Regions from separate parts of the Homo sapiens genome. Here regions 1, 2, 3, 5 and 6 are each linked to region 4. Evidence: fine-mapped expression QTL. A gene starts in region 4. Each other region holds a variant in brackets. All regions are shown on one strand. Distances are between the middles of the regions. Region 1 overlaps CABP7 (calcium binding protein 7). Region 2 overlaps LOC105372988 (a long non-coding RNA gene). Region 3 overlaps MTMR3 (myotubularin related protein 3). Region 4 holds the start of ASCC2 (activating signal cointegrator 1 complex subunit 2). Region 5 overlaps ASCC2 (activating signal cointegrator 1 complex subunit 2). Region 6 overlaps ASCC2 (activating signal cointegrator 1 complex subunit 2).

What was found. PIP is the estimated chance that this variant, and not a neighbour inherited with it, causes the effect.
Region 1: its variant is fine-mapped to the expression of ASCC2 in cerebral cortex (GTEx, PIP 0.92).
Region 2: its variant is fine-mapped to the expression of ASCC2 in whole blood (INTERVAL, PIP above 0.99).
Region 3: its variant is fine-mapped to the expression of ASCC2 in whole blood (INTERVAL, PIP above 0.99).
Region 5: its variant is fine-mapped to the expression of ASCC2 in whole blood (TOPMed, PIP above 0.99).
Region 6: its variant is fine-mapped to the expression of ASCC2 in whole blood (INTERVAL, PIP 0.99).

The regions. Positions count from the first base shown.
Region 1 is chr22:29,727,014-29,732,013 of GRCh38, reverse strand. CABP7 (calcium binding protein 7) reads right to left here. Exons shown (of 5, transcript NM_182527.3): 2 at 4,209-4,352; 3 at 3,272-3,384; 4 at 2,806-2,959; 5 at 181-2,572. The coding sequence ends at 2,445. ZMAT5 (zinc finger matrin-type 5) reads left to right here. Exons shown (of 6, transcript NM_001003692.2): 6 at 660-1,058. The coding sequence ends at 789. Among named protein-coding and RNA genes, the nearest start is that of CABP7, 9.5 kb to the right of the region's middle. The variant G/A (reference allele first, on the strand shown) is at 2,407.
Region 2 is chr22:30,185,043-30,190,150 of GRCh38, reverse strand. All of the region lies in intron 2 of LOC105372988 (a long non-coding RNA gene), which reads left to right. It also overlaps a transcript of HORMAD2 not described here. Among named protein-coding and RNA genes, the nearest start is that of LIF-AS1, 52 kb to the left of the region's middle. The variant CACAA/A (reference allele first, on the strand shown) is at 2,646.
Region 3 is chr22:29,965,077-29,970,184 of GRCh38, reverse strand. The region is part of intron 2 of MTMR3 (myotubularin related protein 3); the gene reads right to left. Among named protein-coding and RNA genes, the nearest start is that of MIR6818, 39 kb to the left of the region's middle. The variant G/CACAG (reference allele first, on the strand shown) is at 2,268.
Region 4 is chr22:29,835,856-29,840,952 of GRCh38, reverse strand. It overlaps ASCC2 (activating signal cointegrator 1 complex subunit 2), which reads left to right and starts at 2,679. Exons shown (of 20, transcript NM_032204.5): 1 at 2,679-2,775. RefSeq lists an enhancer at 2,347-2,406.
Region 5 is chr22:29,786,377-29,791,466 of GRCh38, reverse strand. ASCC2 (activating signal cointegrator 1 complex subunit 2) reads left to right here. Exons shown (of 20, transcript NM_032204.5): 19 at 919-998; 20 at 2,283-2,856. The coding sequence ends at 2,454. Among named protein-coding and RNA genes, the nearest start is that of UQCR10, 22 kb to the right of the region's middle. The variant C/T (reference allele first, on the strand shown) is at 2,857.
Region 6 is chr22:29,804,122-29,809,121 of GRCh38, reverse strand. ASCC2 (activating signal cointegrator 1 complex subunit 2) reads left to right here. Exons shown (of 20, transcript NM_032204.5): 9 at 937-1,011; 10 at 2,218-2,325; 11 at 2,569-2,637; 12 at 2,832-2,906; 13 at 4,292-4,484. Among named protein-coding and RNA genes, the nearest start is that of ASCC2, 32 kb to the left of the region's middle. The variant C/G (reference allele first, on the strand shown) is at 2,337.

The DNA of each region.
Region 1 (5,000 bases), 110 kb after region 4:
TCGGGGTGGACGTTGAGGAGGAGGACAGTGAGTAGCATGAGAAATTAGGCTTTAAAAAAAAATTTAGACAATGTTTTTTTCTGATTTCAAAGGCTTGTGTGCTCGTAAAACTTTTGAGAAATATAAAGGAGTAAAAAAGTCACCCATAATGGCACCACTCAGATAGGACCACTGTTAACATTTTGCTGTGTCTTCCAGGATTTTTTTATGCATTTATATATTTTATATATTTTTAAACAAAAATAGTATCATGCTATATACATTATTTTATAAGCTGCTTTTTCTCCCTATCACACAGTATGTCTTTCCTCATCAGTGCATATAAATCTGCCTTAATTCTTACACAGGCCGCATGGCATTCTCTGCTGTGGACGTGCATATGTATTGAATCAGTCCCCCACAGGTGGACACGAAGGTTATTCCCATTGTCTCGCAGCTCAATGTCTGCCTGCAACCCCGCTATTTCCTTGGGCTCAGTTCCTAGAGGTGAGGTCGCTGGCTCAAACGGTCTGCCTATTTTCGAGGCTCTGCCTTCCAGAAAAGTCATGCAGGCAGCTGACCCTCCCCACAGCCAGGGTGGTGAGGCAGGTGGGCTGGGGGTGGCATAAGCCTGGGCTGTAGTGCACTCTTATTCTCCCCGCTTCTCTCTCTCTCTCTAGGGCTGAACCCATCAGAACCACTGTCTTCCAGTACCCCGTGGGCTGGCCACCAGTTCAGGAGCTGCCTCCATCCCTGCGGGCACCCCCACCTGGGGGGTGGCCTCTGCAGCCCAGAGTCCAGTGGGGCTGAGCCCCTTGCCCCCGACTGACCCCCACGTGGTCACTTTTCTCATCAGTCACAATAGGAAGCCAAGCCCGGTTCCTGCTACGCCCCATGGAGGCTCCGAGACCATCTGCCCAGCCTCACTGAGGCTCAGGACACGGCCACACCAAGTGCAGCCCTCGTCCTGGGTCTGCACCGGGCAGCTCTCCCCTCACTCTCCTCCACCTGCCCCCCTGCTTCTTAAGAAGATGGGGGAGAAAACTTCCAAATGTTTATAAAGAAAGTCTGTCACCACAGTGGTCTGGCTGTGTTTCCCTACACTGGGTGCTCTGAGCTCTGTTCTCCAGCCCCTAGCAGAGGTCGGGCAAGGAGGGAATCAGATGAGATTTTCCCCAGGTGACCCACGCTCACTCCCTTCTCCCTTGGGACCAGCAGAGGTTCAGCACGGCCAGGCAGAGGGTGTGCCAGGGTGGCTGTGCCCGTTGCCTGGTAAGAAGTGGCTCTAGGCCCAAGGAGCCCAAGGGCTCCATCTGCCATCCCCGCCCTGGAAGAATCCACAGCCCCCATGTCTGCCCATGCTGAGCTGCTGCCCAAGTATTTGGGATGGCACAGCTGGGGCATGGGAGCGGGGTCTCCAACCTTGAGGGCGTAGAGAAGTGGGAGGACAGGAGGGCAGGCCCTGGGCTGAGAGAGTGGCCTGGCGCAGCCTCTTGGCACTGACAGTGTGGGGCTGTGCCAGTTTCTTGGCCCAGGAGGTAGTACAGGGGCCCTCCCAAAGTTCAGCCCTGGAGGAGCCCCCTGGCTGGAGGCTGCTCAGAGCCTTCAGGCCCCAGCTCTGCCTCCTTCCTCAGCTGGACTACAGTTCTAGGCTCTAGGCTGGGGTGGTGGACAATGTGGCCTTGGTAGCTGGGCCTCTGGTGGGAGGGCCAGAAGGTGGGGGGCTGCAGGGCCACCTCAGATGCCCATCCTCCACGAGCTTCTGCCTTTCCTGAAAATCCCTGTGGAAGGAAGAACTGAGGCCAAGTCTCGGGGCCCTGAGCCTCGGGTTCCTCACCTGTGAAATGGGCTGGCCCAGCAGGTACATGGAGAAAAGGGGGTCTGGGTTGGGGTCCAACGAGGGTCAGAGGAAGGGGCCCAAGGAGAAGACCAGGGGCCTCCTCAGGCTATGCCAGGCAGCAAGGCCCAGGACACCCTGGCTTCCCACCCTCCCCCAGGAGAAGGCTTTCTGTCCCTGCCTGTGCCCTGTGCCCTGGGCAGACCTCAGGGACCAGGGCTGGGTTGGCTGTGTGGCCCCAGATAGGCTGCTGTCTCAAGGCACAGGGTGCCCGCTCCTGCCCAAGGGACCACAGCAGCGACTGGGTCCTGGGGGTTCCTGTGCAAATCCCTCCTTAATTTCCCAGGAGCCCCTGGATGGTAGGAAGAGTGAGTGCTCCTTACAGGCCAGGGTGGGGACAGGGTGGGGCTGGGGACCATCCTCAGAGCCACCACCCGGCCCTCCACAGCCAGGCCACAGCTCCAGGTGAGGACCGTGGGTGGGTGGGGAGGGCTCGCTGGATACCCAGGCCCTGAAGTACACGCAGATGGCGGCCCAGGGAGCCGGCCAAGGGAGAGGTCTGCAGGCGGCGGTGGTGTGGGGCGGGCCAC[G/A]GGCACCGCATGCGGTGGATGGGGCATCCAGGTGGCGTCTACTTCATGCCACTGCGCAGCACCTGGTTGGCCGCAATGAGCATGACACTGATGATGAAGGCGATGGCGAAGGCGCAGATGAGACTCTTGCGCACGCAAGTCTGGCGGATCTGCTGGTTGGAGCAGGCTGTGGCCGCCCGCCGGGAGCACCGGGGAGACAGAAGGGGACATCAAAGCGATGGAGTCAGGAGCCGCCTGCCCTTCGGCACATGGGCTCATCCCATGGGGTGCCCCAATGGGACAGAGGCTTAGGACAGGCAAGGAGGCCCCCAGCCCCCCTCTGCAGACTCTCCCCACCCCGTGCGTCCCCCTGGCCAAGTCACTGGGCCCACCCGTGGGGTTCCAGGGCCAGCCACTCACTCTCCACATCCACGGGACACTCCTCGGCTGTGCCCAGGTGGCTCTCCTCCTCCGTCATGATGATGTTCTCTATGTCCTTCATGGACAGGTGCTCGCAGAAGGTGTCGTAGAGCAGCCGCTTCAGCTCATCCACCGTCAGCTTCTGCATGTCGCACTTGCGGAGGGGGACAACACGGTGCTCTGAGAGCCACCGCAGCCCCCACCCAGCACCCCACGGCCATACAGACCCGGTGACAGGCCTCTAGATTCTGGGGGGCTGGAAAACACTTGCTCCATTCCCCCAGAGAGTCCTTGACCAACACCGGCCTCCCCAGGGAGCCCATGGCCCTCTGAGAGGTGAAATGTCCAGTGGACACAAGCCTGAAGTGGTCATCCCCCCTTTACAGTGTGGGCCCAGCCATTCACTGGCTCCAGAACAGAACTCCACAGTGTGCACAGCCCTGGGTCCCAACTAGCCAGGGGATACCTTCCAGAAGACAGTATCAAAGTCGGTGCCATGGAACTTCTCTGGGATCCCTGAGGTGGAGAGTTTGGGTCCCAGAAGGGTCACAAACTCCTCAAAGTCCACTTGACCATCACCTGGTGGAGGCACAGGTCCAATCAATCAGTGGGTAGGGCCCAGGCCTGCAGCCCAGGGCCCAGAGGTCCTGGGATGGAGTCTTGATACACCTTGGGCCTACCGGGTGGCCTTAGGCAGGTGCCCGCCTTCTCTGAGCCTTGAGTCAGTGTCAGGGGCATCTACCAAGTGCCAGGCTCTGGGCTGACGCTGAAGCCACCCAGTGTGATGAGGCCTTACAAGGGGAGGTGGAGGTAGACAGCAGGTGGGCCGTGACCCTCCTATTTCACCCAGAACCCTCCGTTGCTCCCAGCACCCTGCGGCCATCCTGGGGTGGGCCATCCTCCACCATATAGACAGGAACTGAAGCTCAGAGTGGGGCAACCTGCCAAGGCTGTCACCTGGCCTCTGGATGGAGAAGAGGAGAAGAAGGGCCCGGGTGGGATAAAGAGGGGGCTTGGCATCACTATTCCTTATGAACTTTTCCTTAATAAAATGCCAGGTGGCAAACACAACTCAAGTAGTCATTTTATCTCAGGTGGTGGGAACTGGAGTATTTATTGCATCCTTTTACTTCTCTGTACTTTAAAACTTCTCAACACAGAGTGAAAGGAGCCATCTCTGAGCCCTGCATGTGGCTGGGACTGTCACTACCTCTCTGGCCTCAATTCTCCAGGCTGAGAAATGGGGCCAGACCGGGCTGCAACCTGCCACGGACTTTGAGGGTGGGAGTCAGGGGAGCGAGAGACCCAATTTGGATGCAGCCTCAGCAGCTCAGGCCCCAGCCCCTGCCCCACCCCCAGGGCCCAGATGCCAGGTGGGGAAACCGAGGCGGGGGGGTGCTCACCATCCATGTCCAGCCGCTGGATGATGACCTCCAGCTCCACCTCGTTGGGCATGTAACCCAGTGAGCGCATGGCTGTGCCCAGCTCCTGCTTGGAGATGAAGCCATTGCCGTCACGGTCAAACACCTTGAAGGCCTCTCGGATCTCTGAGGAGAGAATGGAGTAGGCTGGGACTTCACCCCGGTCCCCAACAGACCCCCTTTCCAGACCCCCAGGATCACCGACCCTGCAGCCTGAGCATGGCCTTGAGAGCCCAACCCAGAGCCTGCAGATCTGGTGAGAGCATGGCCCGAGGGTGCACAAGGGTGCCGTATTCTGGGACCTCTGGGCAGGCTGAGCAGGGCAGTAAAGCAGGGCTCAAGGCCCCCCAGCAGTGACCTCTTGGGATCTGATTGCGCCAGGCTCTCACAGCCTCTCCTGGTGTGCTCACAACGACCCCGTGTGGTGGGGACCACGTGCAGGGGAGGATGCTGGATCTCCCCGGCCCCCGCGGCTGCTGACGGCTTCCCCACCCGCCCCCATTCCTTTCATCCCCCTCTCCCCCACCATCTCCATCCCGCTGCGCCTCCTCCCCCAGGCTCGGATCCTTAGATCCTTAACACCGGCCAACACTTGCTAATGGCAGCCACGTGAGGCAGCTTGCTCCAGACTAATGGGCTGACAGGCGGCACAGACCTCTTTTGGTTCAGGGAAGACAGAGGGGGAAGGAGCCCCCCTCCAGGTCCAGGCCAGACCAGACTGGGTGGGGGGTCGCCCTCCACACTGTACGGAGCAGAAGACCGAGGCCTGATGAC
Region 2 (5,108 bases), 350 kb before region 4:
GTAAAGAATGATTATCCCCATTTCACAGGTGAATCTCAGGGGGTGCTGAATTGCTCACCCAAGCCCACATGGCTAATAAGTGGTCCTGAGAGGACTGGGGTATTAGAATAGTATACCATTGCCAGCTAGTAGTCTCTTAGCACAAATTGGACCCCTAGTAGGACTTAGAGAGAGGAGACGTAGGGCAAGTGAGTTTAATTGTGGGAGAAAAGGTTCAAGCTCAAGTCATGAGTGGTTTTCCAAGACAGCAGGCCTGGGTGGGGTGTGGCCTCAGGGAGTCCTGGGAGATGGGAGGCATGGTGTGAGAGCACAGGAACAGCAGGCAGCAGGGTGTCAGGAGAGGAGCCCTGAAGACTCCTCTTTGGGTAGGGGGACACCAAAACCAAACGTTCACAGCTTAAGCTAACTGATCAGTATGTCTTGGAGAAAGACAGCTTTTGACTGAAATATAAGACACTATAGCTGAGCTGGGCAAGGAATGAAGGAGGAAGACTCAGGGCAAGGAGGGAGCAAGGCCATGGTACACGTGCCATGTACGTGGTACAGGTGCACTCAGATCAGGTCCTCCATAAACTGTGAGATATGGGGCAGCCAACACAGGCTATGTACAATAGTCACTACCCACCCATCCCCCACCCCCAGGAGATAATGGTGAAACTTCAATGCAATTATACGCATCAGAAACCCTTTGTAAGTCCTCTGTAAGTGGTGAGCTCTAATATAACATATTAGGGTGAGTTGTAGTTACTACCTACTAAAGCCTTCTCTGGAGAAAGATTGCTAGTCTGCTCCTAGGTACTCACTGGTCCCCAGATCCTTCCTTGAAGGAGTCTCTTTGGAATCTGGATGAAGTGGTAACCTTCAACAGCTAATAGGCTGTTGGTTGGAAGGGCTTATTAGTTTCCTGTCCCAATGCCTTGTCATTCCCCCAAGACTAGAAGCGAAGACTCAGACAGAAAGAATTAGAACTAGTTTTCAAAACACTGGAAACAGAAAGAGATTTGACCTTAGTTTTCGGGTTAATGAAAAAAACTTTTTTTTTTTTTTTGAGGCAGGCTCTTGCTGTGTCACTCAGGCATGATCACAGCTCACTGAAGCCTTGACCTCCTGGACTCAAGTGATCCTCCCACATCAGCCTCCTGAGTAGCTGTGACTACAGGCTAATTTTTGTACTTTTTGTAGAGATAGGGTTTCACCATGTTGCCCAGGCTGGTCTTGAACTTCTAGGCTCAAGCAATCTGCCCTCTTTGGCCTCCCAAAGTGCTGGGATTACAGGCATGAGCCACCGCACCCGGCCCAAATTTCATTTTTAAAATTTCGAACAGCAGCTGCCTGCAATGGTTACAAGGGGACCTAAGACTAGTGACTGTAGGAAGTGGGGAAAAAGGTATTTTAAAGGAAAAAATAAGGAGGTGGGGTGAGTTTAGGGGCTCAAGTTAGTGAGTTTTGGTTTCCAAAAGAAGCCAACTTTGACTTAGCAATTAAGATACACCTGATTTTCTGGTAGCACAATTCAAGTTAGAACATTGGATAAGAAGTTTGAAAGAACAACTCAGTTGCATGAAAACTTCAGAAGATACTTATTGTGGAAATTTATGTACATACAAAAGTAATTCCCAGAGAGGGCCCTTTGAAAAAGTTGGCCCTTGGCCCTCCTCTTCACTTCCTCACCTGAAAATGGGTAAACAGCTCAGGGAAAGAGTGAGAATCAATGCAGCCATATTTCTGATGATTCAATGATTTTTTTTTTTCTCCAGAGATGGGGATTATTCTTTGACTTTCCCTTTTGAATACTGTTTTCTGTTTTTGTCTCTTTAATTAGAGACAGAAATTCAATTAACAAGGAGGAAAAAGAGAGAGTCTTTTCAAGCCAATTTCCTTGTGCTCCCAAGAGTTTTTGAGGTTAGGTCAGCACATATCTATGCTGTTTACCTCTTTGGCTGTTGACAGGATGGCATGTGACTTGGCCAAAAGCTGTAGCTGGCCATAGCAATGACCACTACTGTCTTGGCTTCAGAGATGCTTATTGTCTTGGCATATAACAACAGTTTTGTTTACCAGAAAAATGTTTTTTTTAAAAAAGATATATTATTATATTTATTATATTTTTGCAACACCTATCAAAGAAAGAGAAAGCAGCCATGCCAAGGTACAATTAGAGGTCACTGTGCTGTATCAAGCACTTTGGGTTTCCTGTTGACTAGCCTACATTCCTCTTTGCATTAAGACTCACAGCGGCTCCCCCACACCACCCCCACTGCCCCTGCTACCTTGCCCCTAAGAAAACTGAACTTTATAAAGTGAACGTAAATGAAATGCTTTGAAGGAAAAAGTCACAGTATGTCTCTAGGCTGAAACACTTTTTTCAGGTTGCTTAAAAGAAATTATATTTGGCCCATTTTCAGGGCAGCTCTTTGGCTTGGGGAAAAAATGCATCTGCTAAATCAGCAGTCCTCTACCCCACTCCATTCCACCAATCATAAGTGCTTCCAAACTTAGCTGGGCCAGTACTTAACACAGTAGACTAAGAAAATGATCTGAATGTTCAATCAAATCAGTATCTTCTATGAGAGAATATTCACAAAGCATAGTTAATTGAAAAAAACGGAAAAAAATACACACACACACACACACACACACACACA[CACAA/A]AGGAAATATACTAAAGTAAGGAGTGGGACTATGGGTAATTTTTTTCTTCTTTGTGCTTTTCTTATTTTGCCATAAGCAGATATTATACTCATAGCAAAGCATGGTGGTTAAAAGCACAGACTTTGGAGTCAGACTGCCTGGTTCAAATCCTACCTTTACCACTTCCTGTGGTGACATTAAGCAAATTACTTAATTTCTCTGTGCCTCAGTTTCCATATCTGTAAAATGGGGATAAGGATTGTACCTATCTCAAAGGGTTGTTATGGGAATTAAAGAGTTAATATGTATGACATGGTTAGAACACATCTAGCATACAGTAAACCCTAAGTGTTAAATGAAGAAAGCATTAATTTTTCATTTAGTCAAAGTATGGTTAATTTTCTCTAGAATGCTACTTGCCATTCTACGACATTCACATTTTATTATATGTGTTGCTGAATAGAGGGCACATACATCCCAAAGCCAATGTTTGTCCTCAACTAACGTAGTTAGAGTGGATGCTTGACATTTGGTGGGTGTCGAAAATTCTTACTTCCCAGAGGCCATGACAAAATGCAGGGATTTCCCAAAGATATACGATGACCCCCCCACCCCCAACCCCTTCTTTGGTCGTAGATGAATTATGGCAAGCCTTATTGTCTCCTAAACCACAGGTTATACTATCGCAATTTGATTAATGACGTTCACAGAACTGAAAGGATCCTTGACCTTTGGTAAATTATGCCCCCCTTGCCCAAGAGTTGATAGCCTTGGGTAAACCTATGTTCAGTGATACGTGCTCCACTTCCTCACGTAGGCCTGGGAGGTGCAGAGGGAAATGAGAACCAACTTTGTGGCAGACAGTCAAATAATTGTGAAATTGTTAATGGCTGATAGGAAAAGATGGAGGAGGTAATGATGAGGCAGAATTAGTTCTGAAAGATATTTTCCCATCAGTAAGAGGGTCTTCACACAAAAGCAAACCCACAGTTTAAAAAAACTCTAATATTGTGGAAAGTGAGAAACAAACACTTTATGTTGTCTTGCAGAATAAAAAACTGAATGATTGAGCTATTTTTTCATTTTGTAATGAAAAATGTTATGTTGATGAGGTGTAGCCCAAAAGCTGGCAGAAATAAGTAAACAGAAAAAAAAAAAAAAAAGGACAGAAGGAGGGAGGGAGGAGGGGTCTCCTATCCAGAGGAGAGAAAACAAGATGGCACTGAAAATCATATAAAATCACCACTGATGCTGTTTCCTTTCAGCCAATGGAAAAATATTCTAGAAAAAGGAAACTCCAAATCTCTTGTTTACCCAGCTGTCTGTACAAAGTGAATTATTCATGATTAAATGTGAATAATAAACCTATGCAAATATTTGTTGTATTCTTAATTTTGAGGAGGTTGGGGGAGCAGCAGGAAGTCATTTTAAAGTGATTTAGTTAACTATCACCTTTAAAATTAAATCAAGAAAGAAAAAGATTTTTGATTGTTATTTATATATGCCTCCCCCCCCAAGAAAAACACACAAGGTTGTTTTTTTCTTAGGAGGCTTATGTCCTATTGGAAATGACAATTTAAAGCTTTTCTCTTAGTATTATGACCTTTATATAATTTCCTTAGAAACTAATAGTGAAAGCTCTTTTTATTTTTTTTTTTTTAATTTTACTGGCTTTAGAGGGCTGAAAAGCTTACAGCAGAGGTTCTTCTATAAAGGGAAACCTTAACTGACAAGTTTCCAGGTACCTGCTGCTTACTGTAAACTCTTACCTATAAATTTCAGTTATAGGTTTTTGATAAAGGGAATATTACAATAATACTGATACCTGGCAGTTTTTAGCTGTTTATCTTTTTGGTTGCAGAATTGGTTTAACAGTTTCCACCAGAACTGTTAGACTAATGACTTTTAGCTAGAACTATGTTAGAGTTTATTTAGCTTATCCATTTTAAGAAGCACTTGAAATCTAAACAATAGTAAGTTATTGAAAGGTGGTTTATCGTCTTGTAAACTCTGTAACTTTTCTACCTCTCTACACATTGTATCATCACCATAATCTCTTAAACAGTTCATAGCATGCAAATGATTGCTTTATATACTATAATCATAAATGAGTTTCATTAATAAAAACAGCTTCCCTGTGGGCCTCATTTTGAAGGCTGAGTTGTTTCTGACTAATGCCCAAGTTTCAGTTAAGCATAAACTAGGTTCCGACGAAGCTCGCTTTTGCTCGACAGTAACCCAAATGCCTGGAGGAGGGGCCAGAGAACTGGTCCAGGCTCTCCTGGTTCCTGGGATCAGGATCTCTCTAGAACCACTGATGATGAATGGGCTGGTCCCTCAAGGGAACCCTCCATTCCTCCTCCAAACTATCCCAGAGCCCAGGCAGAGGGATCACAGGTACTGTGCCAGATTTAGAGTAGACTGTCATAACCCACTGCTTCTATCTCCTGGTTGTTAAAAACCCTAGGTGGAAAGACAG
Region 3 (5,108 bases), 130 kb before region 4:
CTATGCTCTTCTAAAAACTTACAATCTGTACTAATACCTTTACCTGGTTTTATAAGAACAAAAAAGGGGGAAAGAATATCCAACTAGAAACCCAAAAATAGGCTTATACAAAGAGTAAGTAAGTTGCTCTTTTCTTTGAACAGTCTCATGCAAAACCAACATTTCTAGTTTGCTAAGCTTCTGTAACACAGGATATTTCAGGGAGTCTGGGCTTCAATGTGCAGCATAAAACTCTTTTAAGGGCAATGTAAGCAAGGGAACAAGAGAACATAAAAGCAGTAGCAAGGCCCAGATTGTGTTGAGGCATTTTGAGCAGAGGAATGGTAGGAGATGACTTACTCTAAAGAATCATTTTGGCCGGGTGTGGTGGCTCACGCCTGTAATCCCAGCATTCTGGGAGGCCAAGGCAGGCAGATCACGAGGTCAGGAGTTCGAGACCAGCCTGGCCAACATAGTGAAACCCCATCTCTACTAAAAATACAAAAAATTAGCAGGGCATGGGGGTGTGTGCCTGTAGTCCCAGCTACTCGGGAGGCTAAGACAGGAGAATAACGTGAACCTGGGAGGCAGAGGTTGCAGTGAGCCGAGATCACGCCATTGCACATCCAGCCCAGGTGACAGTGTGAGACTCAGTCTCAAAAAAAAACCAAAAAAACAAAAAAAAGAATCATTTTGGCTGTTGGGTAGAGAACAGTCAAGGCTACTGGGGGTAAGGGGCAAAAGAAGACCAATTAGAAAGCGTCATTAACCCCAGCAAGAGACAATATAGCAATGAAAAGGTAGTAGAGATAGAAGTGGTGGGATGTTACTGATTCTGGATATACTTTGAAAATACTGCCCATAGGATTTGAGTGGATTAATTAAATAGGATAGAAAAAGAGAAGTCAAGCTTTTTGTGTCAGCAACCGGAAGCAAGGATTTTCTATTTATTGATGAAGAGCATTGTAAGAAAAATCTATTCTTCTCGTGCCATGCAGAGACAGCTCAACGGACAAGGAACAAGAAATTAAAGTTTCCATTTTAGACACATTATGTTTGAAAACCTATCACATATCCAAACAAAGATGCCAAGTAAAGTGCTAGTTAAACCAGACTAGAGATCAAGAAGATGGAGCCTAGAGATATAAACATAAATGTGGGAGACATCAGTGTGTGAATGGCATTAAAGCCAAATGCAGGAGCAAGTATAAATGGAGAGGCTAAGATGACTAAGGACAGGGGTTTTGGGTGCACCATTTTTTAGAGGCTGGAAGGATGAGGAAGAACCTTATGGTTCAGTAACAGACCAAGTTGGAGTCATCATTCTTAACCACTCTTCAAACCAAGCCAAACTTTTGTGATTTGGCCTAGCTCAAGAACTGAAACTAATGTAAAATTATCTCATTTATTCATTCTTTTCAATAAATATTTATTCAATATTTTCTACACTCCATGCACTGTTGTAGACTTTGGGGACACCACTGTGAACAGAAATTCATGGAACTTGATTTTATTGTTGGTCTTTCTCATTAGAAACAAAGAAACAGATAACTAATGTTAAGCAGTAGGCAACTGCTGCAAAGAAAATTAAGCAGAGTTTGGTGATGGTGTAACAGAAATGCTACTTTAGATAGGAAGGTAAAGATGTGCAAAAAGGCACTTATTGGAATTAAAAAGGAGAAGGGCAAAGGCAGAGAAAATTTGAGGGTATGAACTTATTAAAAGAACGGGATACTGTTATAAAGAACCTTTTCAAAAAAGAAACATACTGAATTACTTTTAAAAAACTGTCCTAATATTACACAAAAGATATTTGTGTTTTAGAATAAAATTTCTAAAGATAGCATCATTGACACATTCAAACTGCTGTATCTTAAACAATTTAAATGGAAGTGAATTTAATGCATTTTGCAAAACTATTAAATAACAAAATATAACTCCAGTGAGGAAGATACTAATGTCAGATGTAGATGGAATGTGAAGGTGAAACCCCCATACACTGCCGGCAGGAATGTAAAGTGGTACAACCTCTGAGGAAAAGTGTGGCAGTTCCCAAAAAAGTTTAGAGTCATCATATGTCCCATCAGTTCCACTCCTGGGTATATACCTAAGAGAACTGACAAGGTATGTCCACATAAAAACTTCTACACAAATTTTCGTAACAGCATTATTCATGATGGCCAAAAGTGCAAACAACCCAAATATGCATCAATCAATGAATGGACAAACAAAATGTGAATGGATAAACAAACAAAAAATACACACACACACACACACACACACACACA[G/CACAG]TATATATAATGGAGTTATCCAGCAATAAAATGGAATAAAATACTGATACATGACACACATAGATGAAAACATTATGCTAAATGAGAGAACCTGGGGCACAAAAGGCCATATATTGTGTGATTCCATTTGTATGAGATGTCCAGAAAAGGTAAATCCACAGAGACAGAAAGTAGATTAGTGGTTGCCAGGAGCCAGGTTGAGGGAAGAATAGGGAGTGACTGCTAATGGGTACAAGGTACCTTTGCAGGGTGATGAAATGTTTGGAATTAGGTAATGGTAATGGTTCTACAGCTTTATGACTATACTAAAAACCACTGAATTGTATACTTTAAAAGGGTGGATTTTATGTGATATGACTTATAGCTCAAAAAAAAAAAAATACAGAAGCCATGTGCAGTGGCTCACTCTTATAATCCTAGCAATTTGGGAGGCCAGGACAGGAAGACAGCTTGAGCCCCAGAGTTCAACGCCAGCCTGGGCAACATAGCAAGACTGTCTCTACTGAAAAAAAAAAAAAATTAGGTGGTTGTGCACACCTGTAGTCCTAGCCACTTGGGAGGCTGATGTGGAAGGATCCCTTGAGCTCAGGAGTTCAAGGCTGCAGTGAGCTTATGCTACTGCACTCCAGCCTGAGTGACAGAGCAAGACCTTGTCTCTAAAAAACATGCGCGCGCGCGCGCATGCACACACACACACACACACACACACACACACACACACACAACAGAGGTGAAGAGTAACAATATAATCAAACTCTTCATAAGATAAAAATAAACGCTGCAAAAAAGTTACAGTATCAACCCAGCAGCAATGAGCATTCTAAGCCCCTAGACTGTGGTCCCTAAAGACTAATTCCCACTTCAAAAGAAGATGGGGCACCTGAAAGAAAATATAACCAATTCCAGGTCTAGAAAAGAAAATGTACAATTTGATTCTGAAACATCATATTAAACTGGAATGTAAGAAACATATAAAAGACTACTGAGGGTAAGTCAGAAATAATTGGGAGTCAATTTGAAGAGACTCACTAGCTAAAAATGAAATAATTTGAGCAAAATGGTTAAATGCAATGGATTGGGTTTCAGGATGTTTAAATATGAGTTCATAAAGAAACATTCTCTCTCTCACACACACACAGAGACAGACACACACACACACACACACACACACACACACACACACACACACACGCACACCCCTACAGGTCACCAGTGGAAGATGTTAAGGAACTAACCTTTTATTTTTGAAAACTAGCAAGTAAGGGGAAAGAATCAAGTATCTATCCCGCCTTTCTTACACAAAATGAACTAGTATAGAATGAAGTAGTTGATGAGGGAAGAATTCTACCTAATATACAAAGAAAAGAATTTGATAATACTATTTTACAACTGCTAATGAAATACAAGATGCAAATAATAATCTAGTCTATGGAAAACTACAGGAAAATAACCCCTATTCTTTAAATAGCAAGACAAAAGACCGACATAGAAGGGAAACCTACAGAATTAAGAGAGACTTAAGTGACCATGTCAACCAACTGCAATATATAGATCTTATTTGGATTCTTATTCAAAGTATAAGCTGAGACATCTATTAGGGAAATCTGACCACATACTAAATATCTGATGATATTAAGGAGTTATTAATTTTCTATATAATTGACAATGTTACTGTGGTTATAGGTTTTTGTGTGTGGTGATGGGTTTTTAAAAAGAATTTATCTTTTAACTATAAAATACATAAAGTTATATACCAAGGAGTAGGCAGAATGAGTAGGAGTACCTCTGAAACAAGATGGGTCATGAGTTGGTAACTTTTGAAGACCAGTGAGATAAGTTAATGGAGATTTATTAAACTATTTTCTCTACTTTTATATATTTGAAATTTTCACATAAAGTTTTTTTAACCATAATGGCAATTCTACCTCAAAACCTCCAGTTATTGAAGAATTAATTTAAAGAGTCAAAGTTTTATCTCTCATGAAACCACTGTTTATACAGTAAGCCTATCAATATGCACTGTTACGTCTTTCAGATTTTTTTCAGAGAAATCTGAAAAAACTCTCACAAGCATCCCGGATGTCCCAACTAAAATGTACTCATCTGTAGTGACACTGAACTAGAAATCAAATTCCAATTACAAAATAAACTCTCAATCTGCAGTCACATTATATATATATACATAAGCTATCTTCCCAGTCAAATCTAATTTGTTTTGTTTTGTTTTGTTTTTGAGACAGAGTCTCGCTCTATCGCTCAGGCTGGAGTGCAGTGGTGCGATCTCAGCTCACTGCAACCTCTGCCTCCCGGATTCAAGTGATTCTGGTGTCTCAGCCTCTCAAGTAGCTGGGATTACAGGCATATGCCACCATGCCTGGCTAATTTTTGTATTTTTAGTAGAGACAGGGTTTCACCATGTTGATCAGGCTGGTCTCAAATTTCTGGCCTCAAGTGATCTGCCTGCCTTGGCCTCCCAAAGTGTGTGAGCCACCACACCTGGCCTACTCTAATTTTTTAATGAGTACAGAAATACCAAGACAAAGATTTGCCACTCGGCATTAAAAGTCTCAATTTAAACATAGTCTTCACCCAGAAATAAGGCCTTCCATTTCTATACCAAATAGATTCTGTAAAATGATGTTCTTTCTGCACTGCAGTCAGTCAAAATTTACCAATAATCTAGTATGTGTTAGACAGTATGACACTGTTAGCTCTGCATTAATACAACTTATATACCATCGCAGAAGACAGAAAAAGATGGTAATAATTACAAATTGTGCTAAATGTGATAAAGGAAACAAACGGGATGCTGAGACAGGGACTGGGGTTTGGGGGTACCGA
Region 4 (5,097 bases):
CCTGGGAGGCGGAGGTTGCAGTGAACCAAGATCGTGCCACTGCACTCCAGCCTGGGTAACAGAGTGAGACTCCATCTCATTTAAAAAAAAAAAAAAGTCAAAGAGATAATATGTGTAAAATGCTTATTCCAGTGCCTGGGATGAAGCAAGGGTTTGACAAATGTGGTCATTATTATCACAACTGTCTTTATCTCTCTGCACCTCTACTTCCTCTGCTGCAGACCTGGGGTTGATATGCATCCTCCAAGTATCTGTGGCAGGCAGACTCTAGAATGGCCTCCATTGATTCACATCTTTTGGTATTCATGCCCTTGTGTAATCCCCTGTGGGCAAATCCTGTGACTTGCTACTAACAAATAGAACATGGCAAAACTGATGTCACTTTCTTGATTAGGTTACATGAGGTTGTAATTTCTCTCTTCTTAGTAGAATCTCCTATTGCCTCCTTTTGTTTGTTTGAGACAGGGTCTTGCTCTGTTGTGCAGGCTGGAGTGCAGTGGTGTGATCACAGCTAACTGCAGCCTCGAACTCCTGGGCTCAAGCAATTCTCCTGCCTCGACCTCCTAAGTAGCTGGGACTACAGGCATGCACCAGCATGCCTGGCTAATTTTAAATTTTTTTTTGTAGAGACGAAGTCTCGCTATGTTGCCTAAGATGGCCTCAGACTTCTGGGCTCAAGCAATCTTCCCACCTTAGCCCCCCGAAGTGTTGGGATTATAGGCATGAGCCACGGTGCCCGGCCCCTATTGCCTTCTTTTATTTATTTATTTATTTTTAATTTTTAGAGACTGGGTCTTGCTATGTTGCTCAGGCTCAATTTGAACTCCTAGGCGCAAACAATCCTCCTGCTTCAGCCTCCCAACCTGCTGGAACCATAAGCATGTGCCACCACTCTTGGCTTCCCTATTAACTTTTAGGCTTGCATGCTTTGATGAAGCAGGCTGCTACACTGGAGAAGCCTACGTGACAAGCCTTTAGCCAAAATCCAGCTAGGAACTGAGACCCTTAGTCCAACAACCATTAAGGAACTGAATTTAGCCACTAGACATGGGAAGCAGATCCTTTTTGAGTTGAGCCTTTAAATGAGACTCCAGCCCTGGCCGATATCTTGATTGCAGTCTTGTGGGTGACCCTGATGCAGAGGAGCCAGCTATGCCATCCTCAGATTCCTGGCCCACAGAAAATGTGAGATAATAAATATGTTTGTTGGCCAGGTGTGGTGGCTCACGCCTGTAACCCCAGCACTTTGGAAGGCTGAGGCAGGCGGATCACGACGTCAAGAGATCGAGACCATCCTGGCCAACATGGTGAAACTCCGTCTCTACTAAAAATACAAAAATTAGCTGGGCCTGGTGGCTCATGCCTGTAGTCCTGCCTACTTGGGAGGCTGAGGCAGGAGAATCGCTTGAACCCACTGTAACCTCCGGGAGGCAGAGGTTACAGTGAGCCAAGATCACACCACTGCACTCCAGCCTGGTGACAGAGTGAGACTCTGTCTCAAAATAAATAAATAAATAAATGTGTTTGTTATAAGTGGCAAGCAGTGTGTTGTTATAAGTTTGTGGTAATATGTTATGCAGCAATACAAAACTAATATAATATCCAGCCCCTCTCATCTCATTTCTGGTTTACAGCCCATCTCTCCTATTTCCTTAGCACCCTGCATTCATCACACTGACTCATTGCTATTGGTTTTCTTGCACTTCCTATCCTGTAAGCCCCTTGAAGACAGGCACTGAACTAAGCATTCCTTGTAGCCCTAGTGCAGATAGCAGGGGTTGGCAGGAGTGTCCTGGGAAATATTTCACAATCCCAGGGTGGGGTTGTGTTCTCCATTCGGGGGCTTCTATAACACCCCAATAATGATGGTGGTTGGTTTTGAATTCTTACTGTGTACCAGGCACTGAGATGAAGCCAGGAATGTGTGTTCTTAACAAGTTTTCTGTGATGATTCTGATCCATAGTCAGGCTTAGGAACCACTAAACCTACATTACCTGAGACATTCTGTAGAAAAAATTGCATCCTTCTCTTAGGATAGCTATACTTGTAACTTCCTTAAACAAAACAGAACAAAACTGTATTGCATACATACAGAAAAATGCACAAATCTTAAGCGTACAATTTGATGAATTTTCCAAAGTGAACACATCTACATGGCTACCACCGAGATGAAGACAGGGGGTGACCCCAGCCTCACTTGTGGCCCCTCCCAGCCCACAGCCCCAGAGGAAACCACCAATTTTAACACCATCACTACTCATGAGTTCTGTCTGTTCTAGAATTTCCCGTAAATGAAATCGCAGTCTGTACTTGTACATCTGCTTAACATTATGTTCGTGCTTTTGACTTGTTAAAATTTCTCTTCTGGATTAAATATGTAAAACGGTGACTAAGGAGGTCGGGCAGAAGGTGGAAGCCTGGGATTCCGAGACGTCCTCTCAGGTGCCATACTTGGATTTCCCGAGAGGTGTAATCACACAGCCCGCCCTCAGCTGACCTATTCTCTGCTTAAGCAGGAAGGGAGATAGGAGGGGAAGGGGGCGTGGCTACAGACGCCGAGTGTGGGGCGGAGTCTTAAGAAGAGAGGCGCAACCCGGGTCCGGCTTCCCGGCGGTAGTTTGCTCGGCTCTGGGGGCGGGGCCAGGCCGAGACTTCCTGTCTGCTCCTGCGGAATCGCAGTTTGACCCCGGAAGTGCGGGCGCTCAGGGAGCTGTCACCGTGGTCGGCGGCGGCGGCGGCGGCGGCGGCACAGAGCCGGTGGTGGAGCCGCCGAGGTGAGTGCGTGGCTGGTCCCTGCCAGATGCAGGGCAAGGGACCCCGGAGGAGCCGCGGCTATGCCTTGGGCAGCCTTGGCTCTCCCATCCTCTGGCCTCCATTGCGGGGCCCACGCTTACGCTACCTGAGGGGTTGTGAGCCGCCTCTCGAGACTTGGCCGCCAGGGTCAGGAGCCACGGGTTCGAAGTTCGGCCCCAGAGTGGCGTTGGACCAGCCACGATCCCCCCACGTCCTCACACCCGGGGCTTCAGTTTCCTCAGGGTTCATTCATTCGTTCAGCAAATATTTGTGGAGTGCTTCCTATGTGCCAGACACAGATCTAGACATTGGGGATACAAAGAAAGCAAGACAGACAAGGCTTCTGCCCTCATGGAGCTTACAGTCTAGTGGGAGGAGATGGTCAACGACAAGCAAATGCACAAGGTCATTAAAGCTATGACAGTAACTGGGAGAGTGGATACTATAGGCAGAGCCATCAGAAGGTCTCTGAGGAGAGTAGTATTTAATTGAGAGACTAGAGGAATGATGACAAAGAGGCTGAGGGAGCAGTAGCCCCGGGGATGCTCCCAGGCCATATTGCAATTGGGTGCTTGTAGGGAGCTCCCCCTCCCTTTCTTAGCTTTTGGCTTTTGCTGTCCTGCCTGGCAGGGGAATACAGTGGTGGGCACAGACATAGTCATGATTATTGTTTGTCCTTTTGGAGCTCAAAGTTCAGATTGTCCAGTTAATTTATTTTTTCCCCCCAAGACGGGGTCTTGCTCTGTCGCCCAGGCTGGAGTGCAGTGGCGTGATCTCGTCCCACTGCAACCTCCGCCTCCCGGGTTCAAGCGATTCTCCTGCCTCAGCCTCCTGAGTAGCTAGGATTACAGGCATGCACCACCACGCCCTGCTAATTTTTTTTTTTTTTTTCGGTAGAGACGGGGTTTCACCTTGCTAGCCAGGATGGTCTCGATCTCCTGGCCTCGTGATCCGCCCGCCTTGGCCTCCCAAAGCGCTGGGATTACAGGCGTGAGCCATCGCGCCCAGCCCTGCCTACTTAATTTGTACCCGTGCTTTAGACAAAAACTCAGGTCTTCCTTGACATCACTTCTTCCTCAAGCCAGGTCTCTCTTTTAAATGCTGCCACAGCTTCATGAGCCTTATCTACATAGCTACATCATGGTATTGGTTTTTATTTGTTTGTATGGCTAATTGGAAAAGTATCTGTCTTTCCCCATTATGACTGTAAGCTCTGTGAAGGGCAGGAGCAGGTTTGTTATTTGCCCACCTTAATATTCTCTGGGCATCAGTGCCTGCCACATAATAGGTGTTCAAAAATATTTGAATGGCCGGGCAGTGACTCATGCCTGTAATCCCAGCATTTTGGGAAGCCAAGGCGGGCGGATCACCTGAGGTCAGGAGTTCCAGACCAGCCTGGCCAGCATGGCAAAACCCTCTCTCTACTAAAAATACAAAAATTAGCCAGGCGTATGCCTGTATTCCCAGCTACTCGGGAGGCTGAGGCAGGAGAATCTCTTGAACCCGGGAGACAGAGGTGGCAGTGAGCCGAGATCGTTCCTCTGCACTCTAGCCTGGGTGACAGAGTGAGACTCCATCTCAAAAAAAAAGGAATGAATGAAATGATTAACGTACTGTTTGCTCTCTCGTGGTTTATTAAAGGTCTTTTCTGCCACCAGGTTATCATCATCTCTTTCTGGTCATGTCTGTCTCATACTTAAATGACTCCTCACTGCCTTCAGGTGAAATACTAAAATCTTTAGTGTAGCATTGAGGCTTTTTTTTTTTTTTTTTTTTTTTGAGATGGAGTCTCGCTCTGTCGCCCAGGCTGGAGTGCAATGGCGTGATCTCGGCTCACTGCAACCTTCGCCTCCCGGGTTCAAGCTATTTTGAGGCTCTTTTTAAACTGGTCCTGTCTTCCCTATCCAGCTTCTCTTCTCTCTTCACTTCTGTCATCCCCTATCTGACCTGTGTTTTCAGTAACACCAAATGTCTCCCTCTTCCTTCAAAGCCACACTTTTTAGACAGGGTCTCACTGTGTCCCCTAGGCTGGAGTTCAGTGACGTATCATGGCTCATTGCAACCTCAATCTCCTGGGCTCAAGCAATTCTCCTTCCGTGGCTTCCCAAAGTGCTGATTGCAGGCGGAAGCCACCTCACCCGACCCAAAGCCACACATTTTAAGACTCTGAGCCTTTGTTCATGCTTGCTCTCTGCTTGGAATGTCACCTTTTCCCCCATCCTTCAACATCCAGGTTATAGATCACCTTCTTTGTAATATCCTTCCTTTCTCTACTATACTGTAGTTTTGGACATTTCCTGTTA
Region 5 (5,090 bases), 49 kb after region 4:
CTCAGGTGATCCACCTGCCTCGGCCTCCCAAAGTGCTGGGATTACAGGCATGAGCCACCACACCCAGCCTTCTTCTTCTTCTTCTTTTTAGAGACAGAGTCTCGCTTTGTCGCCTAGGCTGGGGTGCAGTGGTGCAGTCATGGCTTACTACAGCCTCAAACTCCTGGGCCCAAGCAATCCTCCCACCTCAGCTTCCCTAGTAGCTGGGATTATGGGCTCACACCACCACGCCTGGCTAGTTTTTATGTGTTTTTGTAGAGATGGGATCTCACAGTGTTGTCCAGGCTGGTCTCAAACTCCTGGACTCAAGTGATCCTCCCACCTTGACCTCCCAAAGTGCTGGGATTACAGATGTAAACTACAGTGTCTGGCCTTTTTTTTTCCTTTTTAAAGCTACTGGCCACCAAAGCCTGTCTGTGGTCCCTAGGTCCCAGTTTTTCCTTGCACTATTGGCAGAGAAGGCTGTCCTTGAGAGTGGGCACTCCCACACATGCTGCTAGTGGTGCCACAGTGAGGCCTAGGCCTGCAGCTCCCGGGACCACTTAGCTCCCACGGTGGCTCCCGCAGTCTTCAGGGCCCTGCACAGCCTCTCACAGTGGCCATCCTGGCTTCCCCACCACTCCCATTTGTCATTGTTATGCCATAACTATGGTCTATCCACTCTACCAGCCTGTCCAGGAAGCCTCAGTCCCTTCAGCTGCCACCCGCTCAGGGAAGAGGTGGGGCAGGGGGCTCCTAATGGAAACCTCAGACCACAGTAATCCCACTCCATTCCTGGGCGTCGCTCTGCCAGGCTGCAGCTTCCCCCCACACCTGGCATGGAGGCATCGACAAGCTTCACTTGAGCAGGGCCTCATCGCCGCTTAGGAAAATGTGGCAGCTCCTGACTCCAGATTTGGTCTCCTCTCCTTTCCACAGCCCGACCATTTTGTTCAGGACCCTGCAGTGCTGAGAGAGAAGGCAGAAGCCAGGCGCATGGCCTTTCTCGCCAAGAAAGGGTGAGCATTCAAGGGGCTGCTTCTGGGGGGACCCCTCCCACCATCTGGGGAGGGCCTAGCCAGCCACCCAGGAAACCCACACGTACACCCTAAGTGCTCCACGTGTATTTAGTTCTCACGACAACCCAGTGAAGTAGCTACCATTATCACTATCCTTATTTGACAGATGAAAAAACTCAGGCCCAGAGACGTTAAGTAACCAGCCAGAAGTCACACAGCTAGTAGGTGATGTAGCAAAGATGGAGCCCAGATGGCTCAGCTCCAGGGTCCCCACTCATAACCATTACTTGGTGAACACAGGAGGGGATTTATCACCCAGCGTGTCCAGGGCTAGCTGATATCAGGCAGAGTGTAAATGTGAGAGAGCTCAGACAGACACAGACACATCCTTTCTGGCTGATAGAGGTATGGAAGTGACGGGCACTTGAGTTGGGCCCCTAAGGGTGAAAAGGGCTCAGAGGAGTTTGTCATATGAGGGCAGAAAAGTAAGAAAGCAGGCGTGGTCAGGAGAGGGATCTTCGAGGGGAGCTGAGATCAGTACCCAGAGACTCCTCATCCAGGCCCCGCATCTTCCCAGTGAGGAAACATTGAGAGGGGCCAAGGATCTGCCTCCACCTAAGGCCAAGCCAGGAGTAGAAGCCCACTCCCGCATCCCGGCCCTAGGCTTCATGCAGCACTGTCTGCTGGGTTCAGGAGGCCTGGCCACAGGGAAGGCATTTGGATTTCATTCTGAAGGCAGTGGGGAGCCACAGAAGGTTGTTGAGCAGGGAGCAGAGCAACCCTGACTTCTCATCCATCCCAGCCCCCTGAGTGCGGAGCTCTGGCAAATCCCAGTGGTCAAGATGGTCTGAAAGGGCCCTAGGTCACATCTGTGAGTGCACTTGGTCTTTGGAGGCTGCCAGGCAAAGCCCTAGGGTAGAGAACAGGAGTAATGTCTCAGCTACAGCATGTGGCCCCAGAGGGAGAAAGGAGGAGACCCACCTGAAGCCCTCCCCGTCTCCTGTAGGCTGTGTCAGCTCTCTAGCTGTTCCTCCGCTACACGTAGCAATGGGCGGACCTGGAAGCAAGGCCCAGAGAAGAGAAAACACCAGGCTCGGGGCTGGTCAGAGCCCCAGGGCCCTGCCCCTGCTGGGCTCCATCTCTCCTTCCATCTGAAGTTGGGACATGAGTGACCAGGCCCAGTCTGTGTCCTCTCCCAGTGAACACCAAGGCAGGCTGTGGGCTCTCCCGCCAGAGCCTCTTCCGGCTGACAGGTTCTCGTGGGGTGGGTTGTTCCTCCCTCAGGTACCGGCATGACAGCTCAACAGCAGTGGCCGGCAGCCCCCGAGGCCATGGGCAGAGCCGCGAGACAACCCAGGAACGCAGGAAGAAGGAAGCCAACAAGGCGACAAGAGCCAACCACAACCGGAGAACCATGGCCGACCGCAAGAGGAGCAAAGGCATGATCCCATCCTGAGACCTGGTGCAGGGCCAGTGGGGAGGCAGCGGCACCAGACTCACCAGGCCGTGCTCCCATCGCCTGGGGCCTCCTCACTAGGGGCCCCAAGTTCAACTCAACCCCTCAACAGCCTCAGCTTTGCAGCCCCTGAGAAGGCCGCCTCTCATCTACCAGCCAGCCATGAGCGCCTTCCTGCAGAACACACAGTGCCTTATGCCACAGCCGAAGAATCCGTGGGGCCGGCAAGCAGGCACCTTCCCCCAGCTGCGCTAGCGGGAAAGAGATGGGGATGGAGTCCCAAGGCAAGCGCCCCAAACCTCGGGCCACAAGACACCACTTCCCCTTTACCCTGGACAGCAGGAAACCTGTATATTCAAAAACACAAAAAGTCCTGCTAATAAAATTTTTGACCCTTTCAAA[C/T]GATCTGTGTATGTCCATGACCCACATTCCCTGTGTCTCATTCTTCAGGGACAGCTGCCAGCTGGAGGACAGGAAGGCAGGATGGTCACTGTACTCTCTCCGTCATCCTCTCCTGCTTGTGGCTCCTGTAACCCCTCTGATGCTGCTCTGCCTTGCTGTGTGACCCCAGAACATCACCCCCTTCTCTGAGCCTCCAGTCCTTGCTAGTGGAATGAAGGGCTGGGTGGGGTGAGCCCCTGTGGTCCTTTGCATTTTCTCATTCAGTTATGACAGCTCCACTGTAAGAGGTAGGTACCATTTTCAGCCCGGTAGTACAGATAAGGAAAATGAGGCACCGAGGGCTGAAGGCACCTGCCCCGGCCACAGCTAGGAAGTGGCAGAACAGGGATTGGACCCTGGCCTTTACAGGGTTCTAGACCCCTGTAGGTGGTGTCATCTCCATCTCACAACTGGCCCAAGGACATTCAGCCAGTGGCAGAGGCAGTACCCAAACTCAGCACCTCATGGTTGTATCTACATTGTAATAAATCCCCCCAAATCTAGAGTTCGGACAGAAACCTTAAGAAACAAGTGAGAATGTCGCTGCCAAGCCCTGTCAAAGTGAGTGGGACTTGGGCCTGTTTCCTCAAAGCCCCTTCCCAGGCATGGCCAACCAGTTCCTAGCGTGGCAGCAGATGCCAGGCCACACTGCGTGTTGTCACTCAATGGCGAGTCAACAGCGGGGCATTGACTGGGCTGACCCTAGCCCAGCCTAGCCTGGAGCCCCATCCTATCAGTGGAAGCCAGGGCCCATGCCTGGCTGGACCTTGACAAATCACCCTGGATGCTGGTGCAATTTATTTGCACGTGCTTAGGATGAGAGTCTGAAGCAGAGGCAGACAGGCACTTGATGGATTGGTTTTGTTAGGTCAGCCCGCACAAGTGAAAATCAATAGCAATCCCTCTGCCTGGCCAGCCCTCTTGGTGTATTTGAGATGCAGAGCAGATACGGGGGTGGTGTCCTCCCCCTGAGCTGCTGAATTAGCTGAGATCAGGCCCAGGGTCAGCCGTCCTGACAGGCAGCAGGAAGACTCTGTTTCCTCCTGGAGGCATTTGCCAGGGACCTCCCTAAACTCCTCAGGTCCAGTGCTTGTCCCTGGAGCAAGGCAAGGTGAGTTGGGAGTTCCCAGGATTTACTGGTCTTACCTGTTCCTGTTCACACGGCCCCTCTCACATTCTCTTAGTCATCTATACCTCCCACCCACCTGGACTGGTGTTCAGGCCTCATGTGAAAATCCTGGTTTAAAGTATTTGAGAAGGAGTCAGTTTTTCAAATTTTTCAGAATGTAGTGCCAGGTCAAACTTCATCTCCCTTGAGGATCTACTACTTTCTCATTTCAGATCTTGAAAGCACTCTTTCAGAGGTGCTTTGAAAACAGCTCAGGGGCCATCCAGAATGGTGTTCCTACGCCTACTGCCTCATCTCTCAGGGCCTCAGTTTTCCCATCTGTACAGTGATCCTGTTGGACCAGATGAAATCTTTCCACCTGGTGCCAGTTAAATCCTCTGAGGAGATCCCAAGGTTTAATTAACATTGGCAGCTGCTCCAGCCTGTGCAACATAGCAAGACCCGATCCCTCCAGAAAATAATAAATAAGGTGGGTATGGTGGTGCACACCTGTAGTCCCAGCTACGCAGGAGGCTGAGGCTGGAGGATCACTTGAGCCCGGGAGTTGGAGGGTGCACCCAGGAGTTGGAGGCTGCAGTGAGCTATAATCATGCCACTGCACTCCAGCCTGGGCAACGAGTGAGACCTTGTCTCTTTTTTTTTTTGAGACGGAGTCTTGCTCTGTCACCCAGGCTGGAGTGCACTGGCACGATCTCGGCTCACTGCAACCTCCGCCTCCCGGGTTCCAGTGATGCTCCTGCCTCAGCCTCCCGAGTAGCTGGGACTACAGGTGTGCACCACCGTGCCCGGCTAATTTTCGTATTTTTAGTAGAGACAGGGTTTCACCATGTTGGCCAGGCTAGTCTCAAACTCCTGACCTCGTGATCCACCCACCTCAGCCTCCCAAAGTGCTGGGATTATAAGCGTGAGCCACCGCACCCAGCCAGAGACCTTGTCTCTTAAAAGGAAAAAAAAAATTTGCAGCTGCAGAAGTGTTAGAAGCGAAGTGGGGCTAGAAATGCCTGCTGGGTCACTGCATCCCACCATCCCCACTGCTGCTTCTACACAGGTATTTTCTAAGTGCCTT
Region 6 (5,000 bases), 32 kb after region 4:
GAGACAGAGTCTCACTCTGTTGCCCAGGCTGGAGTTCAGTGGGGGGCGATCTTGGCTCACTGCAACCTCCACCTCCCAGGTTCAAGCAATTCTCCTGCCTCAGCCTCCTGAGTAGCTGAGATTACAGGCGTGCACCACCACTTCTGGCTAATTTTTGTATTTTTAGTAGAGACGGGGCTTCACCATGTTGGCCAGGCTGGTCTCAAACTCCTGACCTCTAAGTAATCCACCCATCTCGGTCTCCCAGAGTGCTAGGATTACAGGCGTGAGCCACCGCACCCAGCCAGAACAATTTTTTTTTTTTTTTTTTTTGAGATAGGGTCTCACTGTCACTCAGGCTGGAATGTAGTGGTGTGATCATGGCTCACTATAGCCTTGACCTCCTGGCCTACTGCCTCAGCCTCCCAAGTAGCTGGGGCTACAGGTGTGGACCACCATGCCTGGCTAATTTTTGTATTTTTTGTAGAGATGGAGTTTCACCAGCCTGTTTCCCAGGCTGATCTTGAGCTCCTGGCTCAAGCAATCTTCCTGCCTCAGCCCCACAAAGTGCTGGGATTACAGGCATGAGCCACTGTGCCTGGCTAACTGACAGTTTTTGAGCAAGAAAATTACAAGCAAGTAATCTTGGATCTGCTTCTCAAACTTCAGTGGGTTCCGAGTGGCCTTCTGATTCCTCTGTTAGTATGAGCCTATCTGGGCCTCAGTTGCCCATCTGAATGAGGGACATGGCTATAGGTCACTTCTTATGAGCTGTTCCTGGGACCAGCCCTAGTGGGTCAGTCTGGGGTGAGCTCAGGGAAGAACCAAGGGGTCCCTGGAGAAAATTGTGTGGAAAAAGAAATGGGCCTTCCCACTCCCTGGGGTTTGCTTTGATGTTCTTATGAAGTGTGGTATTTATGAACTAATCCAACATTTTCCCTGTGTGTGCCTGCACAGACTAGCTTCCTTCTACGAAGCAGCAATTCCCGAAATGGAGTCTGCAATTAAGAAGAGGAGGCTTGAAGATAGCAAGTGAGGCGGGGACAAAATTAAGAATGTTGTTGTGGGACAGAGAGGCCCGAGCAGGGCCCTGCCTTCCCTGGGCATTAGCATCCCTATCTCTAAGACAAGTGGGTGGGACCAGGGACTGTGCAGCTTTGAGCTTCTGCATCCCTATCTAGCCACTTCCTGACCTCTGCATTTGTTTTTTTTTTTGTTGTTGTTGTTGTTGTTTGAGACAGGGTCTTGCTCTGTCACCCAGGCTGGAGTGTAGTGGTGCAGTCACAGCTCACTGCAGCCTTGACCTCCTGACATCAATCAATCCTCCCACTTCAGTCTCCCGAGTAGCTGGGATTATAGGCGTGTGCCACCACACCTGGCTAATTTTTGTATTTTTTGTAGAGATGGGGTTTTGACGTGTTGGCCAGGCTGGTCTTGAACTGCATTTTTTTTTAAACTCTTAGCATATTAAAAAAAATATATGTTCTCTGTAGACTTGTATGAAGACCTAATAAGAAAGACTGCAACAACTAGAGTTAAGTGTTACTAAACACCGTGAAGGAGACTTGACCCAAAGTCCTGCTTGTACTAAGGCAATTATGTCTATTAACCCAATCCCCCAAAATACCATGATGGCTGGGCCCTGCATTGAAGCCCTTCCCTCAGCTGTTACTCCATGCTCTTGGTACTCAGCCTGCTGGTTCCTGACCCACCGTTTGAACTGAGAAGCAGCCCTGGAAGCAGCTATCTTCTCTGGGCCTATGGCTTTTGCCAGCTGCTCTCAGCAGTGAATTGTGAGGCCTTCTCTGCTCCAGGGAGGCACCTGCAACTGCTGGGGAGAAGCTCCCTTTGTGCCTTTTTTTCTTTTTCTTTTTCTTTTCCCTTTTTTTTTTTTTTTTTTTTTTTTTGAGACAGGGTCTTGCTCTGTCACCCAGGCTGGAATGGCACCATCATGGCTCACTGCAGCCTTGACCTCCCAGGCGAATGCGATCCCCCTGCCTTAGCCTCCCCAGGAGCTGGAACTACAGGCCTGCATCACCACACTTGACTAATTTTTTGTATTTTTTGTAGAGACAGGATTTCACTTAGTTGCTCAGGCTGGTCTCAAACTCCTGGGGCTCAAGTGATCCTCCCACCTCAGATTCCCAAGATGCTAGGGTTTCAGGTGTAAACCACTGCACCTGGCCCCTCAGGGCCTTTTTGTCTCCTAAACCTGTGTCTTTTTTCTCTCTGGCCTAGGCTTCTTGGTGACCTGTGGCAGAGGCTCTCCCATTCCAGGAAGAAGCTAATGGAGATTTTCCACATCATCCTGAACCAGATCTGCCTCCTTCCCATCCTAGAAAGCAGGTAAGCCCTCA[C/G]GAATTGCCTCCTGGTGGAAGAGTCTCCTCCCCAAGCCCTTCAGGAGCGTTTCCATTATTTCATCTTGGCTTCCTCCACTGCACTGGGGTTGGCTGAACAGAGATGAGAAACCAAGAAAAATGCCTCATTCCTCCACTGGGCCCCAGCCTTAAAGAGGGGCAGCGGGTGTGTAAAGGAGCTGCAGCTCATCTTGCATTGCATGAGCTCATCTTCCCTGGTGTCTTGTTCTAGCTGTGACAACATTCAGGGCTTCATCGAAGAGTTCCTTCAGATCTTCAGCTCCTTGCTGCAGGAGAAGAGGTGAGTGTGGCTGAGCTGGCCTGGGCCCATGACCCTCCCACAGGTCCCCAAGAGGCCTTACATGATAGACCCCCGCTATAGGCCCACCACAGCTCTAATAAGGTCGGGCTGCAAACACAGGGAGTGGCCTGCAGCAGCACAGCATTCCTGTGGCCCCAGCTCTGTCCATCCCATCTGCTCTCATCTGCCTGCAGGTTCCTCCGGGACTATGATGCACTCTTCCCCGTGGCCGAAGACATCAGCTTGCTGCAGCAGGCCTCATCAGTCTTGTATCCTTCTACCATAGCCCACTACGACAGGGCCCAGCTTGACTAGGTCAGAGGTGAGACAGGCTGCTGGAACCCAGAGGAGTGGAAAGAGGTTTAGCCCCAGAACGCATGGGTCAGCCAGCTGTCCGAGGTGGCCTGCCAAGGTCCCAGCCTTGCCTTTTCTAGAGGAGATGGCTGCTCTGATGCTTGGGGCAGGGGAGATGCAGTGCTATTTTCCGTCTGTGTTTCCTGAGTATCTGGGCCTATGTGACCAAGATGGACTCAGCCCCTCCTCACAGCAGGAGGGGAGGTGGACAAGTAAACAGGCAGTTAGATAGAGTGTCACGTGGGAAGATTTCAGAGGGCAGGAAACCAGAGGTGGCGCCTCACCCAGCAGAGCTCTGGGTGGGGGTCTCAGATGGAAATGATGTCCAAGCAGAAGAACAGCAGAAAGAATGGGAGAGCACCAAGCCAGGAGCAAGGACAAGGACAAGAATGTTCGCAGTGGACAGAGGACAGAGAAAACAGGCTCCTTAGAGCCACAGACGTGTATAGAGTACAGGGGGCAGTCCTTAAGGAGGGGTCTCCCAAGAGGAGGAATTGGGGTGTTGCAGGTGAGGTGAAGGCCAGCAACGTGCACAGCCCTGGGGTGACCATCACTAAGAAGTTTGGGCTCTGTCCTGCAAGCGCTGGGGAGCGCGGAAGGTTGTGAAGCAGGAAGTGACATGGGCAGTTCTATACTTTGGAAAAGCTCTGTCTGGCCCAGGGAAGAGAATGGACTGGCCCAGGACCACCGTGAGGCTCGGGCCAGTGAGGAGGCTGTTGCTGGCATCCAAGCATGGATGATGAGGGTTTGGACAAGAAGCAGTGAGGGAGTCTAAGGGGACTCTCAGATTTCTGGCTTGACAGTGCCCAGGGTTGTTAACAAGGAGGAAGGACAGGGAGGAGCAGCCAGCTTATGGGTCATTTTTGGTGGTTGCAGTAGATTGCTCAGTCCTGCTTCAGGGAAACCTGATGGCCCACAGCCTTTGCAGAATGCCCTCAGCTGGTTGGACAGGAAGCCCAGTGGCAGTGGCCCTACCACGCCCTCCTCCTGGCAGTCAGTACAAAAGAGGAGCTGCTGGCTCGTCCATACCTGTGCCCCAGGACACTCTGATGGCAGCCCTGGCCCTGTCTTTACTCAGAGCTGCTTTCTGCTGAGTGAAAGGCACTAGGTTGTGAGGCCAGAGTGGCTGTAGTCTGGCCCATTTTTCCATGCAGCCCAGGTGCCCGTGGGCTATACCACTTAGATATAGCCCAGAAAGCCCCTGGCAGGAACCATGTGGTCAGATGCTGGGGAGGGACTGAGAAATTATGCTGCTTCAGAGCTAGGAGCTTAAGACAGACCCCTTAACAAGTCCTCACAGGGACGAGACGCGGACTGCCTACATCCTCCAGGCAGTCGAGAGTGCATGGGAAGGGGTGGACAGACGGAAAGCCACAGATGCTAAAGACCCATCGGTGATTGAGGAGCCTAATGGGGAGCCTAACGGGGTCACGGTGACAGCAGAGGCAGTCAGTCAAGCATCATCACATCCGGAGAACTCGGAGGAAGAGGAGGTATGTGTCTGAGTGGCGCTTTTCCCTCTTCGCTTGTCCCTCCTTGGCCCTATCTGAGAGGCTGGGGCAGCAGGAAACCTCCCTTCTTTGCTTTTATACTCAGGGAAAAAGTTTTTTTGGGGAATAGACAGCCTCAAGCAACTGGTCAGCTCTGTGCTGCCTTTAGAGGGTCCCAAGCTGGGGGCATGCTGGACTGTGTGTGAGGAGAGAGCAAGTTGCTTCAACTATCGAAGCCTTAGCTTCCCCTCTATAAAATGAAGAGACGAAACTTTCCATGAACGTTTCCATGAGCCCTTCCCGGAGCTCTCCTCTAAATAGATAAAAGTGGAGCTCCTTTGGTTGCAACTGGGAACAGTGCCAAGTCCCATGGTTTGGCCTTCTTGGAAGCCCCTCCGTGGGGCTCCAGGATTCCACTGAACAAGTGTAGAAACCTCGGATCTGGTGCCTTCTCTCCAGGCTTTTCCAGGACTGGCCGAATCTGTGGCTGTCTTGATTGGCCACCAAGGCCAGGACTCT